Linked DNA regions of Homo sapiens: region 1 is linked to region 2. A link means that fine-mapping ties the variant in region 2 to the expression of a gene that starts in the linked region. Tissue or cell type: monocytes after LPS. Region 2 holds a variant in brackets; the other region holds the start of a gene. All regions are shown on one strand. Distances are between the middles of the regions.

Region 1 (8,103 bases), 46 kb before region 2:
GGGAGAGGACTTATCAAATAAATTTTCAAATGCACAAAATTATAAGGCAGAGGGAAAAAAGATAAATCTTATTACACCAAAATATAAGATTTCTGCCCACAGACATCATGGATCTCATGCAAGAAGTCAGTATACAGATGGCAGAATGAGAGGAGATATTTGCAATATCAAAACTGACAAGCAATTAATGTCTAGATTTTATATAAACACCCACAAACCAACTAAAAAAAGAGAGCACTAAAAATTCTCAAAAATTGGCAAAGGATATTAAAAAGCAATTCACAAATAGTAACCCCCAAATGGTAACAAGCATATGAAGAGGTTCTCAAAATCATTAGTCATCAGAAAACAATGTAGAGTAAAACAATTGAAAGCGGCAGGAGGCAGACAATTTCCTAGGCAGATGGGGGTGGGTCCCCAGTGAAACCCCACCTTCAAGCCAAAAACAGCCTGGACTGCTGGTTTGGGATGAAACCCCTCAAACCAGGGTGAGAACTTCTGTTCCTGTTTGCCCACCCTTTCCTGATTGGTTCTTTCTGAATAATGCTTTTTAACCAATCAAATGTTGCCTTTTCTAATACTACCTACAGCCCGCCCCTCCCCAATCCTGTGCCTATAAAACCCCCTAGACTCAGCCACACTGAGATAGACAACCCCACCTTCTCAATCCCTCTCCACTGAGAGCTGTTTCATCGTCAATAAAATTCTCCATCCTCATCACCCTTCAACTGTCAGCATGACCTCATTCTTCTTGGATGCAGAACAAGAGCTCAGGACCCACCAAATGTGGGCACCCACAAAGGCTGTAACGCTGGCCCTCTACCCTCACTGGTGGAGGGCAGCTGCCCCACAGAACAGAAGCTGCAGCAGGGCCAAGCTGGTCCAGGAGCCACGGGCCAGAGTGGAGAAAGGGGCCGCCTGAGCTGCCAACATGCCGCTGTCCATCAGGCTGCAGATGGTGGAGATAAAAGAGCTATTTAGCACACTGTAACACCCCTCTCTGGGGCTTCAGGCACCCCTGCCTGGGTGCTGCCACAGTCTCCTTGGGGTGACACACCTGATCTGGCTGTGGGCCCCACACAGAGCCTGTTCCTGTGTCATGGCTCAGTGCAGCTGGCTGGACCCTGCATTCACTCGGTCACATGCTCCCTCCCGCCAGGGGCTGAGCATACAGTCGCAGTGGCCTTGTGAGCCATGGGCTGTAACACAAGCCAGATGGGGCCTGGCAAGCTGAGTAGATAAGGCACTCCCTGCTGCAACCTCAGCAAAGGGGTCAAGAAAAATCCTGCATCACAACAAGCTCTCATTTTATAGCTATTAGCCTGACAAAAAAATAAAAAGCTGGCTAATGGGAAGTGTGAGTATGTATGTGTAAGATGCATATGGAAATAGTACCCCCTCACACCATGCAGGAGAGAATGAGGACTGGTGTCCCCATCCTGGACATCATCTAGAACTATTTTGAGATACACACCCATGGGGGGAATTGCTGGATTTATAGGGTATGGATATACTTAAGTTGCCTAAGAAACTGCCCACAGCCCAGGGAGCAATTAGAGATGTTCACTGCAGCAGCATTGTTGTTTAACTCTGTGTACGTATGTGTTTGTGTGCCCACATGCTCACGGGCTTGGGAGGTGGTGGTAGCAGCAGAAAGTTGAAGGGAACCTGAGTGTCCATCACTGATAGAACAAGAAACCCATGGCAGATTCTCATTACAAAATACTAGGCTGCAGTTAAAAGCTACAGATTGAATATACATATAGCAACATGGGTAGATCTTAATTTTCCACTAAATACTCTGTTTTGTAAGAAACAGACTGAGAAATGTAATATATTTACATAATACCATTTACATAAATTTAAAAATACACATAGACGAAACAACACCACACATTTTGCAAGAACCTGTGCAAACAAAAATACACATTAACACATTAGAGAGGCTGCTATGGGCGGTGGTGGGGGGCGGGGAATAAAAGTGGAGCACAAGAATAAAAGTTAATAGAAAAATGTGAAATGTGAGAGGACTTTTCTAATCTGACTCTAAGACTTATTATAAAGCTATAATAATCAAGACAAGGTAGTGTTCTGTCATGACAGACAAACAGATCAATGGAACAGAAGAAAGGGCTCAGAAATAAACCCACATGTATACAGTCAATTGATATTTTACAAAGGTGCAAAGACAACTCAGTGGAGAAAGGAATAACTGAGTCGCCATGTGCAAAAGTGCATCTGGATCTATAACTTGAAGCATATAAAAATATTTACTCAAAGTGGATCACAGACTAAATGTAAAACCAAAAGCTATAAAACATAGGAGAAAACTTTTGATCTTGGGTTAGGCCAAGATTTCTATGTGTACAACATCAAAATAGAAATCCATAAAAGAAACATTTGATATATTGGATTTCATCAAAATTAAGAACGTTTGCTCTTTGAAAGGCACCATAAGATAATGCAAAGAAAATATTTGCAAATCACTGCCTGATCATGTCCTTATATCCAGAATAAAACACCCTCAAAACTCGATAAGAAGACAACCCAATTTCTTTTTTAATGGGCAGGAAATTCAAACATGCTATTCAATAAAAAAAACTTATCCTTAGCAAATAAGTACATGAAAAGACATTCAATACAATTACTAATCAAGGAAACTCAAAACCACAATGAGATACTGCTACACACCAATTAAAATTTAAAAGGCTGACTATATCAAGTGTTGGTGAGGACAGAGAACTGCAACCTTCATACACTGCTGCTAGGAATATAAAATGATACAACCATTTTGCAAAACAGTATGGCAGTTTCCTAATAAGTTATAAAAGTCCACCTACCACATGACCCAGGCATTCCATTCCTAAGTGTTTACTCAAGGAAAATTAAAACATACGTACTTTCGAAGATTTGTGCACCATATTCGCAGCAGCTTTATTTGTAATAGCCAAAAGGTAAACAACGCAAATGTCCAATAGTGAATCGCTAAACAAATTGTAGTCTATCTGTACAATGCAATACTATAAAATAAATTTTACTTAGCCATAAAAGGAAGAAACCATTGATATAGGCAACAACATGGCTGAACCCCAAAACAGTTATCCTGCCTAGTATATACTCTATGGTCCATTTACATAAAATTCTAGAAAATGCAAACTAATTTATAGTGACCTAAAGTACATCAGTGCTTGCCTGGCCAGGTGGTTTCGGGAGGAAGGGGTTACCAAAGGGCAAGGGAAAACTTGCAGGGATGATGATATGTTCATAATGTTGATCTCGGTGATGGTCTCACGAGGGAAACATTAAAATTTATCAAATTGTACACGTTGAATATGTGCAATTTATTGCATGTCAATTATATCCAAATAAGAGATTTTTATAAAGAAAAAAATAGGTATTCTGGCGCCCAGGGCCACCCAGCTGTAAGCGGCGGGGTGGGATTCCAACCCAGAAGCGGGCATTTGGAGCCCTCATGCTTCACCCTAGCTCCCTGAAACAAGCACGGAGGATGGCTCTGAGCAGCGAGGAAAGTGCTGGAAGCAAGCAGGCCGAGCGCGTCCCTGGCTGGGGACGTTAATCATTACCGGAGGGCGGCCCGAGCGCGGCCCCGCCCCGGGACGGCAGCCTGCGCGCCCGGCCGCCGCCTGCCCTCTCCGCTGGCCACCTGCTGCCGCCCGCGCCATGGTGAGTCCAGGGGTGCGCGGCCGCGATCGGGGCAGCGGGGCCGGGGCAGCCGCGGGCGAGGTGGGAGCGGGAAGGGGCGGGGGAAAGTCTTTTCGAGTCCCCTGCGGAGCCGCCGGGGTCCGAAAGTGGGGTCTCTGCCCGGCTCTCTGTCGCTGGCGGCGGGGAGGGGAAGCTGAAGCCCTGAGAGGGGCGGTGGCGGGTTCGAATCCCACCCAGTTGGGAGGCCAGGCCTGCCCTGACCCCGGCCAGTGCTTGTTCCGGGACCCTTCCGGGGGCGGGGCCTACGACCTTCCTGGGCCGGGGAAGACAGTCGTGGAGGAGTCCACGGATCTCGTCCCCTTGGTGGCCCGATTCTGCTTTATACTGGGGTGGGAGCGAGAGGGAGGCTGAGTTTGCGCGCTCGTGTGCGTGCCTGTCCGCTGCCCCTTCCCGCTGGCACTCTGGGTACGGGGTCTGCCTGGGACTCACGCTCTGCGCCGGTATGCTGGCCCCAGAGCCACTCCCCGCGCCGGCTTGAGGCCCGTGCCAGGCCACGGGGGCTTGGTGGCGCTGGAGCAGCCCTCCTCCCGTGAGCTTCCCCCACCCACCCCCGGGGCGGGGGCGGGGGCGGGGCCCTTGCTCTGCTGTAAGCTCGCGAGCTTCATCAGACCATTTCTGGTCCACAGGCCTTCGGAGCAGGCAAGACTGGGAGGGCCTTTTGATAGGAGAGGGACTTGGGGGAGGGAGGATGAGTGGGGCTGTTTGTGAGGGGCGCTGAGGTCCCAGAGATGCAGGCTTGGGAAATCGGTAACCACTCCCCACACCTCGCCAGAGGAGGCAAACGGGGCAGCGTCCCCCTCTCTGTCTCCAGAGCCGGCACCTGGAAGGTTTGTCAGTTCAGCCGCAGGCTGTGCGACCTGGGGGGTTCCAGAAGGCTCTACCGAGAAAGGGAAGCCTCCTAAGAGCTCACCTGGACTCACCCACCCCTTTAAGAGCCAAGGAAGTAAACAGTGGGCTCTGATGCTTTGGCTGACTTCTGGTTGTCTAGATACACGGACCAGGCGGTCAGCCACGGGGAGAAGGCCAGCTCTGGAGTAGAGACCTACCTACTGGGCAGATGATGCAAATCGCTGCTGCCATTCAATCCCTATAGTCATCCAGAGCCGAGGGGAAGAGAGGGGCCAAGCTACATCAGTCCAGAGAGAGCTCACGTTTTCAGGAGGGAAAACAGCAGGGAAAAAAGACGGACTTAGGAAAGCACTGCGATGCTTCAGCTACCCCAAATGCTACCAGGCCCATCACAAGCCTGCTTGCCTTAGGAAGTTTTTTTTTTGTAATGCAGATGACATTTGCTTTATAGCAGTGGAGTTTCCTAAAGTGTCCCATTGGCACCTCATGATGATCTGTGGAGGTGGAGGTTCTGCCAAGAGAGGTACAGCCACCTGGCTGGTAAATGGTGAAAGCGGGTCTCAAAACTCCTGCCAATCAACACATGGTGTCCAGTCTGCAGGCTGCCTCATAAAAGCTAAATCAACCTCCCTCACATTCCCTCCCCACCCCTAAGGGTATCTTTTCAATTCAGCACTCTATTTCTGCCCTGGGGTGGTGCTACTCTAGAAGCCTAGGTTCTGGGATCTGTTAAGCTCCTAGACCTGGATCCTCCTAGGATGAAACTGACCCTTGCTTCCTTGCTTTCTCTGAGGTTCCACTCATGGCCTGAATTGTGCCAATTTGGGCTGCCTTGAGGGCACTTCGCACATTAGGTAAATAGGATGGGGCACTAGGTTTGCCAGCTGCCTTTGGCCAAGTTCCTTCCACTTTGGCCTGAGCTTCCCAACCAGCCAGAAAAGCAGACGGAAAACCAGAGAAACCTAGCCCTGGCGGCTCAGGACCAGAGGCTGCCTGGGAGCATGACTGAGGACCTACTAGAGGTAGTGCCAACGGCGGTCAGCTGCAGTGTGGCTAAGAATGGGATGGACACTTATTTTAAATGTAGCTCCTTCGTCCAGCCCCAGCAATGCTGACACACAGACAACACTGCGCCATCACTGGCTAGGGGTGGGCGGGAAAGAACAGCAGACAAGTCGTTTCCCCTCTCTAGGCCTGTTTCCTCTTCAATACACGTGAAAGTTACGGTAGGGACGTGGGGTGCATATGATGAAGTACATAATAGGAAAAGGAAGGGGGGAGAGTCATGGGTACTCTTCCTGAGAGGTTGTGGAGTAACATATTTGCATCTGGGATTTATTTTGCTTTTACGCCCTCACTGATGTAATAATCTCATGGAGGGAAGGTCCGTAAGGCTTTGAGGGCAGGGTGGGGGAAGAGTGCTTCTCTGTCCCCGTCATATGAATTACATTGCTTTTGTGATTTCCCTTGTGTGTGTGTGGAGTGTTAAAACCCAAGACCTGAGGGCCTATCGGCAGACGAGCCTGGACCCCACCTCCTGGGCAGGGTGCCACCCTTGAGGCCTCCCAGCCTATTGCTCAAAGACCTGCTGCCCTTTGGTCACCCACGTCCAAAGCAGCCAGTGGAAGCTAAGTTCCCCTAAAGGTTGGAGCCCCTCTGTTTTGACCTATAAAGAGAAATGCCCTTGGGCCTCTGTTTTTTTCCCTCTTCTAGGCTGGCAAAGCACACAGGCTGAGCGCTGAGGAGAGGGACCAGCTGCTGCCAAACCTGAGGGCTGTGGGGTGGAATGAGCTGGAAGGCCGTGATGCCATCTTCAAGCAGTTTCATTTCAAAGACTTCAACAGGGTATGGCACCAGGGTGGGACAGAGTTTTCTGAGACGGGCTGATGGGGTCACCTTACAAAGCATGTTCTCTCCCTTCACGTCTTGTTAGCCAAGACTCTCAGACACCACACTCATCCAGTTATTTGGGCACTGTGCCAGTGGGGAAATTAATTTTCCTGTCTAACTCAGAAAGTATCATCTTTGGGGATTGGAGAGCCATAGGAGGATGTGTCTTGGGCTCTCCCTTCCTGGAACTTTTAGCAGCAGTCTTCTGAGGAGATAGTTCAAGTGGAAACCATGCACATCTGAAGACATTTGAACAGACGGCCAAGACTGGCCAGGCCAAAAGCCTGTTGTGGTGTTTCCACCTTGTTGACATCCTAAATAGCAAGACTTTCTTCCTACTGCAAGGACAATCTCTAACTCAAGCCTGAGAACCAGTGACAGGATGTCAAGGGGGAAATGATTATAGAGGAGTCTCCTGGGGGGAAGCTAATTCATCCTCCTGCGTCTAGGCCTTGAATTGGTGATGTCCAGAAGTCCTTTCTCTTAGAACACTAACCTGGCTCTCACTCCACTTAAATAGGCCTTTGGGTTCATGACAAGAGTGGCCCTGCAGGCTGAGAAACTGGACCACCATCCTGAATGGTTTAACGTGTACAACAAGGTGAGTGATGCTGTGTGCCTCTGTTGTGCTCTGCCCCCATCCAAATACTGCGAACTCTGACACATTCTGAAGGCTTTTGGACTTAACAATGAGCCTTCCTGACCCATAGGTCATCCACTCATCTCATTTCCAATCTCACTGAGATTGCACATGCCTAGAATCAACATAAATACCCCTGGGAAAAAAAAATCAGTCTTACTATAAAGAAATGCAAATTAAAAGATGCATGAGATAGTTGTGGTTAAAGTAGACATTTAAGTAGACATTAAGAAGGCAAAACCCAAGAAAGGAAAGGCTGTGGGAATCAGGCATACTTATTCAGTGTTCATAGCTCTAAATGGCTTTAATCTTGCTGGAGGTATGGAAGAATGAAAAAGTAATAAACTTGAACTAAGAATACACACATATTTGGGAGGCCGAGGTGGGCAGATCACGAGGTCAGGAGATCAAGACCCTCCTGGCTAACATGGTGAAACCCTGTCTCTACTAAAAACACAAAAAAATTAGGCGGGCGCGGTGGTGGACGCCTGTAGTCCCAGCTACTGGGGAGGCTGAGGCAGGAGAATGGTGGGAACCCGGGAGGCGGAGCTTGCAGTGAGCAGAGATTGAGCCACTGCACTCCAGCCTGGGAGACAGAGCAAGACTCCGTCTCAAAAAAAAAAAAAAAAAAAAATACAGACACATAGCCAACCTATCAAATTATTTGCTTAATGAATAGAAACAGTCATTAAATGTCTACCATGTGCCAAAAGCTCTGCTGGTCTCTGTTTATAAAAACAGTAAGGGTGGAAGAGGTCGTCTATGAATGGATAGTGTTTAGGAGTTGGCATTGGTTTTTGGTTTTGTCTTTAGCTTTTAGGTTGCTCTTGACATTCAGATATTAAGCTTTTATTCTATAGCTGAAGTCATGATTATTTTTGAGAGACAGCAAAGGGGAGATGTAGAAGATGTTGTTACAGACATGTCAGGAAGGAGTCCCCAGGAGAGATCGTACTGGCCAGCTGCTATTCTGGAGCTCCTAGCAGGGCTGAGCCCAGCAG
Region 2 (8,104 bases):
TAAGCTTAGCCTTATTTCATAAATGTACCACCTTTGAATTGTAGTACATTTGTAAAACAAGGCGATACAATAAATGGTGGTTTCCAGGGGATGCGGGAGAGAGTAATGGGCAGTTATTATTTGATGTTTATTAAAATGGAGTTCCAGTGGGGTGATGAAAAAGTTCTGGTAATAGTGATGCCTGTACAATAATGTGAACGTACTTACTGCCACAGGACTAACTGTACACTTAAAAATGGTTAAAGTGGTAAATTTTATGTTGTATATATTTTATTATAATAGAAGGATAAGCAGAGACTGATTTTTTTTTTAATGAAAAGTTAAAAAATAAAAAGAAAGTATATTTCTTGCTACCCCTCAGAATCCTCTGAAATGGGCCCCTTACTCACTGAATTGAATACTTCCTAGGAAAGGAATAAGCAAGAGCAGAAGGACACAAGCTACATCCATATCCAAACCATTGAGCAGATGCAGCGGAAGGGCCGGCCAGTCTAATTTCTTAGAGTTTATCAGAAAATCTTGCAAGGACTAGGAGCAGCAACTGAGGACAAGGTTTTTAAAGCTGGAGTGAGCTACAGATTTACACAGGAGAGTCAGGTCTCATTTCCACTTTAATTTAAAAACTCTAAGCAGTTGGAACTTGCTTCTTGGTTGTCAGGTTTTGCAATGTTTACTGCGCCATAAATGGCTAAGAAGCTATTTGCAGGGTAAAGAGATAAAAATGGAATCTGGCTTCTAAATTGACTTTCCTTGAACAAGAGAAGAAAAGCAGAAAAAACACATTAAAGAGCCCTTTTAAACAGGTGTTATCAGGGAAGCAAAGTGGTGGGGAAATTTCAAGCAAATGAGAAACAGCTAATGATTATCTTCAATGTTACTGTTTTCTTATCCCAAGGAAGTTAACTCCCATACCCTACTAAGAGTGGGGAAAAGGTGCAGGGGAGTGTTATAGAACATCCAGCACCAAATCCACTACTTGTGTTTAGGTACTAACAACACTCACCAAGCACAGACTGCAGAGGAAAATAACTCATAAGAAGGTAACACACAACCAGGTTTCTAGGCGGGAAAAAGGTGGGTGGGCAGGAGAGGGGCTTAATCCTAAGCAAAGGTGGAAGATTCAGAAGCAGATCACTGAGACTGCTCATCTTCTGCACCCTGAGAAGTGGCCTCTTCTTCCCCATGTTGATCTGGCACTGAGTCACTTCTAGGAAGCTCAAAGTATACGATCCCCTGATACCAGTTCAACTCCAAGAGGAGAGAGATCCTGTACTACTTGTGCAGATATCCCCACAGCCTGATGGCAGTGCCTGGCACATAGCAAGCACTCAAATGGTCACCATGTAAGTGCTGTTCCAATTTCACCTAATCTTTACTGAAAAGGATAGCACAAAATGAAAGCAATAAATTCCTGCTCTGGGAACTCCAGGTGACATAATTATGTTCTAGGGAAGAAACTGGTACCAAAGGTTTAAACCATACTGAGATTTCTGTGGATCCTTACAATGACTAATTCTGAGGCGTTTTTACGTGAACTACAAATCCAAAAAAAATCAATGTAAGGAGTATTAGTTATACAAGAGTCCTGTTATAACTTGACCAATCAGAAGACAAAGTACTGCTTTACATTTAAACAGATTTTAAAAATAAGAACCAAACCAGGGCCGGGCACGGTGGCTCACGCTTGTAATCCCAGCACTTTGGGAGGCCGAGGTGGGTGGATCACGAGGTCAAGAGATCAAGACCATCCTGACCAACATGGTGAAACCCCATCTCCACTAAAAATACAAAAATTAGCTGGGCGTGGTGGCGTGTGCCTGTAGTCCCAGCTACTCGGGAGGCCGAGGTAGGAGAATCACTTGAACCTGGGAGGCAGAGGTTGCAGTGAGCCAAGATCAGGCCAGTGCACTCCAGCCTAGCAACAGATGGAGACTCCGTCTCAAAAACAAACAAACAAACAAAAAAACAACCAAAAGGCAATAAATTAGTCCTATCTCTCAGCAATTAGTTTGAGGCTAGTGACACACCACTATACCTTTACAGAGGAGACAGCATACTTACTCTCTGGCTGGAAGACAAACTCATATCCCCAGACTATCAGCAGGGTCCACACGACACTCCATGCAATTAGCTGCCAGGGCTCATACTTGGTGCAATGTCCATTTACATAATTCTTGGCTTTTGTGGAGTATACTTCCAAAATCTCTAAGTAGGGCTCAAAGGCCTTCTAGAAATACAAGTGAAAAATAAAAACATTACATTTAGAGAGAGAAAAGAAGTCTGTTCTTAGTTTGTACTTCAACTCTCATTTTTCAAGGGCAAGGTCATTCCGGATCTTGCCCTTCTTCAGCAATAATCTTATTATCATCTACAGCCCTCAAGGCTTCTGTACCAGTCACTCCAGCAGCACTCCACTGCCACTTAACAGCTAGTGGACTTTGAGACTATTTTCAATCTTGTGCCTATTTTATACAGTAAGAGGGTTAAGCTAGATCGTCACTTCAGCCCTAAAATTTCTATATGACTGCTAGAATCACTGTCCCACTCTCTTAACTCACACTAATACCCCCAATATCAATGTCATTTCTCTTCTCTATTTGAATCTTTCCTATTCTCTACCCCAGTAGTCAGCAAACTGGTTCTGTAATGAGCTTGATACTAAATTATTTTATATTTTAAGTGTTGCAAAGCAAACATTCTCCTTTACAACTACTCCTCTCTGCTGCTGGAGTACAAATATAGTCAGTTATTGTGTAAACAAAGGAACATGGCTGTGTTCCAACACAATGTAATTACAGACACCAAAACTTGAATTTCATATAATTTTCATGTTCATAAAATATTCTTTAACAATTTTTAAAATGTAAAAATCATTCTTAGCACAAGGACCATATAAAAGCAGGCAAGAGCCAGATTTGGCTTGCAGGCCACAATTTACCAATGCCTGCTCTAAGGCCTTACTTGACTATAATCTCTCAGTCAGCAACCATATCTTACCATCATGTGTATTCCTCACAACACCTGGTACGAGCAAGAAAAAACCTGTCCTCTGTAAACTTACCAGAGTATCTCATTCACGAGAATTCCTCTCTCCCTTTAAATTCTCCTCCAGTACTCATTTTTGATAAGTCCTATACAGAGCTTATCACAACCTGCCTTGCAGTCTACTCATCTGTTTCTTATCTCCCTGACTATATGGTTAAGTTCTTGAAGACAGACCAGTTCTATTCATATCTACAATCCCCTACAATGCCCTGTACAAACTAAGGTCATTTTATAGTTTACTATTCATTCACTTAATCAACATTGATTAAGCATCTCCAGGGTTGAAGGCAGTAAGCTGGGGAAGTGTTCAGGTACATATCATAGTTCCAAGTCTATACTGAGTTTACAATCTAATATGCAAGATGTAGATGTGTGTCCACACACACACACACACACAGGCACATACATATACAAACAAATCACGAAAACTTCTCAGGGGAATAGCCACAAAAAGCATATGAGTGCCAAGATGGAGCACTGAGGAAGGACTATCTAACTCTGAAGGGATAAAGATAATGAC[A/G]GAGGGCAAAATTTAAGCTGGTTAAAAGGATGAAAGAAAATTCTCTAGGTAGAAAAGTTAAAAGGAAAAAAGTCATACCAGAAAGAGAGGATAGTAGCTGCAAATGCATAAAAAGAGTCTGCATATGGCAAAAGTTCTATGTGGCAAAGTGTAAGCTACATGATGGCAGGGACCATTTCTGTCTCATCCAGTACTAAATCCCCAACATGTGGCAGAGTGCCCGGCACACAATTTATACTGAATACAAACATGGACAGGGGCTGACAGTGCCCAAGTAACAGTGCCCAAGTAAATGAGTGAACACTTAAATCAGAGACGTGAGGCTGGGAGAAGTATGCTAGGTCCATGATATGGTTTGGATGCCTATCCTCCAAATCTCATGTTGAAATGTGATTCCCGACATTGGAGATGAGGTCTGGTGGGAGATGACTGGATCACGGGGGTGCATCTTTCATGAATGAGTTCTTGCTCAGTTAGTTCAGGTGAGATCCGGTTGTTTATAAGCCTAGGACCTCCCCCCACTCTCTTTCTTGCTCTCACTCTTGCCATGTGACGTGCCTGCTCAAGTTTTGCCTTCCGCCATGATTGTAAGCTTCCTGAGGTCTCACCGGAAGCAGATGTTGAAGCCATGTTTGTACAAATATGCAGAACCATGAGCCAATTAACCCTCTTTTCTTTATAAATTACCCAGACTCAGGTATTTCTTAACAACAATGCAAGAACGGGCTAATCCAGTCCATGTTTAAAAAGGACTTAGAAAAACTGATATACAAACTGATAGGAACTTTTGTAAAGCAATTTGTTGGTATCTATCAACATTTTAAACGCATGTTCGTTTTGACCTAGCAATCTCACTTTTTGGCATCTGCATACTTTGCACATGTATACAAATAAACATGTTCAAGGATATTCATTTCAGTATTCTCTAACAAAAGGGAAAAAATAATGTAAATGTCCACCCACAGAAGAATGGTTAAATAAACTATAATACGTGCATTTTATGTACCCATACCATGAAACATTAAGAAGAAGACAGATCTACATGAACTACGTAGAAAAATTTCCAGAACATAGTATCAGGTAAAAATAAGTAAATTACAAACAACAGCAATAAAACAAAACAAAAGGCATGGATTTTTAAGTATGTGAGTAATTTTTTCGGGTGTGGGTATAGATCATTCAAAATTTTCAAGTTCAAGTTCGACAGACTGGTTAACTATGATGTTAACAGTTAATATCAGTATTAACTATGGTAAGACTAGAAGAGGAAGGGAAGGTAAAAAAGGTAGAAGATGTTTTGAGAAAAAGATAATGATACTGACTTAAATATATTCCTATTGGATATCCACATCCAGTGTTCTAGTAGGAACATGAAAGCTTAGAAAAAGGACAGATACTCAACAAATGCTTGTTGAAAACATTTATACCTGCAATGGACTGAATGTTTACATCCCCCAAAAATTCATATGTTGAAATCTAACCCTCAAGCTGATGGTAGGAGGAAGAGGGAGCCTTTGGGGGGTCATTAGATCATGAAGGCAGAGGCCTCGTGAATAAGATTAGTGACTTTATAAAAGAGACCCCCAGAGAGCAAATTTGCCCCTTCTACCATGTGAAGATACAGTGAGAAGACATTTTCTATGAACCACTTTTATGAAGGCCACCTTCCAGGAAGTGGGCCTCATCAGGCACCATATCTGCTGTTGCCTTGCTCTTGGGCTTCCTGGCCTCCAGAACTGAGAGAAATGGACTTTTGTTTATATGCCACCACGTTTATGGCATTTTGTTATAGCAGCCTGAATGGACTCAGACAATACTCTTAGTAATTAGACTGTGGTATAAGGTAATTAACATTAGACAACTACTAAGTTCCCTGGAGGGCTACCCATGGAGACAGTTTATCTGCAATTCCCCAACAGTTCTTGGTGGCCATTCCCCAGAGCCCACTGTTGCATCAACAACCTCAATCCAAAGCAATGGCAATACCAGCCAAAACCTGGGAAAGACCAGAGGAGTCTATCATCAAAAGTATGTCATGATTTCTATCATTATAAAGACTCGTCTAGTGTGAAAGTTGTGGTCAAACCAGATGGTTAAATACTGTGCATGAACGAGATGATGAAAGAACAATTATTCAGATTAGCTTTTCTTCTGGTGATACTAATTCCTAATTCACCCAGAAAACAGAAGTTACCAATGTCAAAAGATGACTATAGATATTATGAACAATTCACAGCACTGAGCAAAAAAGTAACATAACCAGTATTAGGGTGACAGCAAAGAACCAGCAAATGCAAACTAATTTTTAAAAGCCTTAAAATTAAGATATAAAGACATTCCTCACTAACATTTAAAAATTACATTCAGCAAGAATATATTTTCTTTGTATTTGTTTTGATTCTTATGAAGATAATGGCAATTCTTAAATTCAAAGGAGGTCCTTTAAAAGGAGATAAATCTAAATTCTTTAACACCAAAGACAGAATGACACTGTAGTTGGATGGGTCCTGACAAGCTTTTTGAGTAGTCAACTAGTTGATCACAGAAATTACATCTCCTGGCATCATTCTAAGGTCCTCCTAGTGTTACTACAAACAACCTAGGCTCAGTCCCCAATGTAGATGCAACTCACAACACTCACAGCTCACTGAATTATTGGGCTCTGTGGCATAAGGTATCCTATCTCCTTGGACTAAAGGATGATGCAGTTCCTTAGGACCTTGAAAACAGCACAAACCCCAGGCTGGGTCCTGATGCAATACTCTAGCCCTTGGGAAGCACAGAATGTAAGAGCTGAAGGGAACCTGGAAGATCAAGTCTAACATTTTCATTTTACAAGCAGAGACCCCAAAGTGAAATGACATGACTACGCTCATACAGACATGCTTGTGATTAAGTGAAGTCTAGGAACGCATGCCTTTTGACTCAGTATTCAGTACCCTTTCAAATCTTGATTTTCAGTATTCATGGGCAGAGGAGTAACACATTACAATCCAGCAGCATCCCAAGAGTTTTCTTTTCACAATTTATGTTCTTGGCAGGATCTACCCTGGATACATGGTACCATGTATAACATACTAAAATTATATAGTTAGGTCATGACTACAGATAAACATCTAGATCAACCTTGTCCAACATGCAGTCCAGGACAGCTCTGAATGTAGCCCAAAACAAATTTGTAAACTTTCTTAAAACATCATGAGACTTTTTTTTTTTGCAATTTTTATTTTTTTTTAAGCTCATCAGCTATCATTAGTATATTTTATGTGTGGCCCAAGACAATTATTCTTCTTCCAATGTGGCCCAGGACAGCCAAAAGACTGGACACCCCTGATCTAGATAGAGATGGCACAGAAGTTCATGTGATTATAATTACTATTCCCACTATGTCTTTTTACTTATAACAGTACTTTTTTGTCTATATATCTCTGAATATATACTTATAATTCTTAGGCTTCTGTTTATTTCAATTTTATCAATGTATTGTGTCTCTGGAAATATATGAACTATGAATGGTCATCCACAAAGGCCACTAGCTTACTGTGCAACTCCAGGTAAATTATTTCATCAATCTTTATGTCTTTATCTAGAAGAAGAAACACAAGAACAATACAGTCATAAAATAAGCTGTATCTGTATATGTGTGTGCCTGGGCAGGGAAGGGGGACAGGGGTGCTTATCTCCAACCCTTGCTTAATAGAACAGTAGTTTCAGTACAGTTTCTATAAGTAAAACATTCCTTCCTTCACTGTTATAAAATTGGAAAGGTATTCCTCTAGAAAAAAAAATTATTTGCCCAGTGAATGAATAATACTTTTTAAAGTATAACATTAAAGAAAAAAACAAACTCTTATAAACCTTAGTAGTAGGAATATTCATAATATTAACTACTTTAAAGAGCTATTGTCAAATAATGAGTAAACTAGCCTTTCTCTTGTTTATTCCATTTCCAATTCAATGATTACATTTCAGATGATACCCAAAAGGCATCAAAATAGTACTCAATAATCCTAATCGTTAGACAAAAGGCAGCTCCTAGAATTTATGGGAGCTTGGTAGCCCACTCGCCCCAATGACATAAAACTCTTTCAGCCTTCACTTTAAGGATGCAAGACCTTTTCATGAATGTACCCAACAGCAGAAGGCTACAAATATTGTAAATTTGGGGTATGCTACTTGTTAGACCACTGAGTTTCAAACTGTTTCAATATGTGTATTAGAGTCTACGTGTATGAGACTGTGTTGTAAAATACAGTCCCAAAGAAATGTCTTTTACAACACAATCTAATACATGTAGAAACAGAAACATATAAAACCAAAAGTTTCCAAAATAATACTTAGCACCTTATTACTTGTAATGTACTCACATTTCTATTTCTTCCTTCTTTAACGCTTGATATACTAAACTGATTTTGTGTCCCTCTAAATGGATCATAATCTGCAGTTTCAAAAGCAGTGCTTCAGAGTGATTTTACTTCTGGCTTCCTTAAATTTAGAATGTGGTTGTGTAATACAGTGAGGGAGCTAACACTAATGTTA

Direction of the effects. Positions count from the first base shown, and alleles are read on the strand shown. Sizes are in standard deviations (SD) of each study's normalised expression.
For the expression in monocytes after LPS of the gene that starts at base 3,650 in region 1, allele G in region 2 goes with a higher level than allele A (moderate effect, 0.47 SD a copy in Fairfax 2014).

What was found. PIP is the estimated chance that this variant, and not a neighbour inherited with it, causes the effect.
Region 1: PCBD1 starts here. The variant in region 2 is fine-mapped to the expression of PCBD1 in monocytes after LPS (Fairfax 2014, PIP 0.95).

The regions. Positions count from the first base shown.
Region 1 is chr10:70,884,112-70,892,214 of GRCh38, reverse strand. PCBD1 (pterin-4 alpha-carbinolamine dehydratase 1) reads left to right here and starts at 3,650. Exons shown (of 4, transcript NM_000281.4): 1 at 3,650-3,684; 2 at 6,286-6,417; 3 at 6,983-7,063. The coding sequence starts at 3,682. RefSeq lists silencers at 3,534-3,783, 4,114-4,393.
Region 2 is chr10:70,838,596-70,846,699 of GRCh38, reverse strand. SGPL1 (sphingosine-1-phosphate lyase 1) reads right to left here. Exons shown (of 15, transcript NM_003901.4): 3 at 2,062-2,227. Among named protein-coding and RNA genes, the nearest start is that of SGPL1, 27 kb to the right of the region's middle. The variant A/G (reference allele first, on the strand shown) is at 3,566.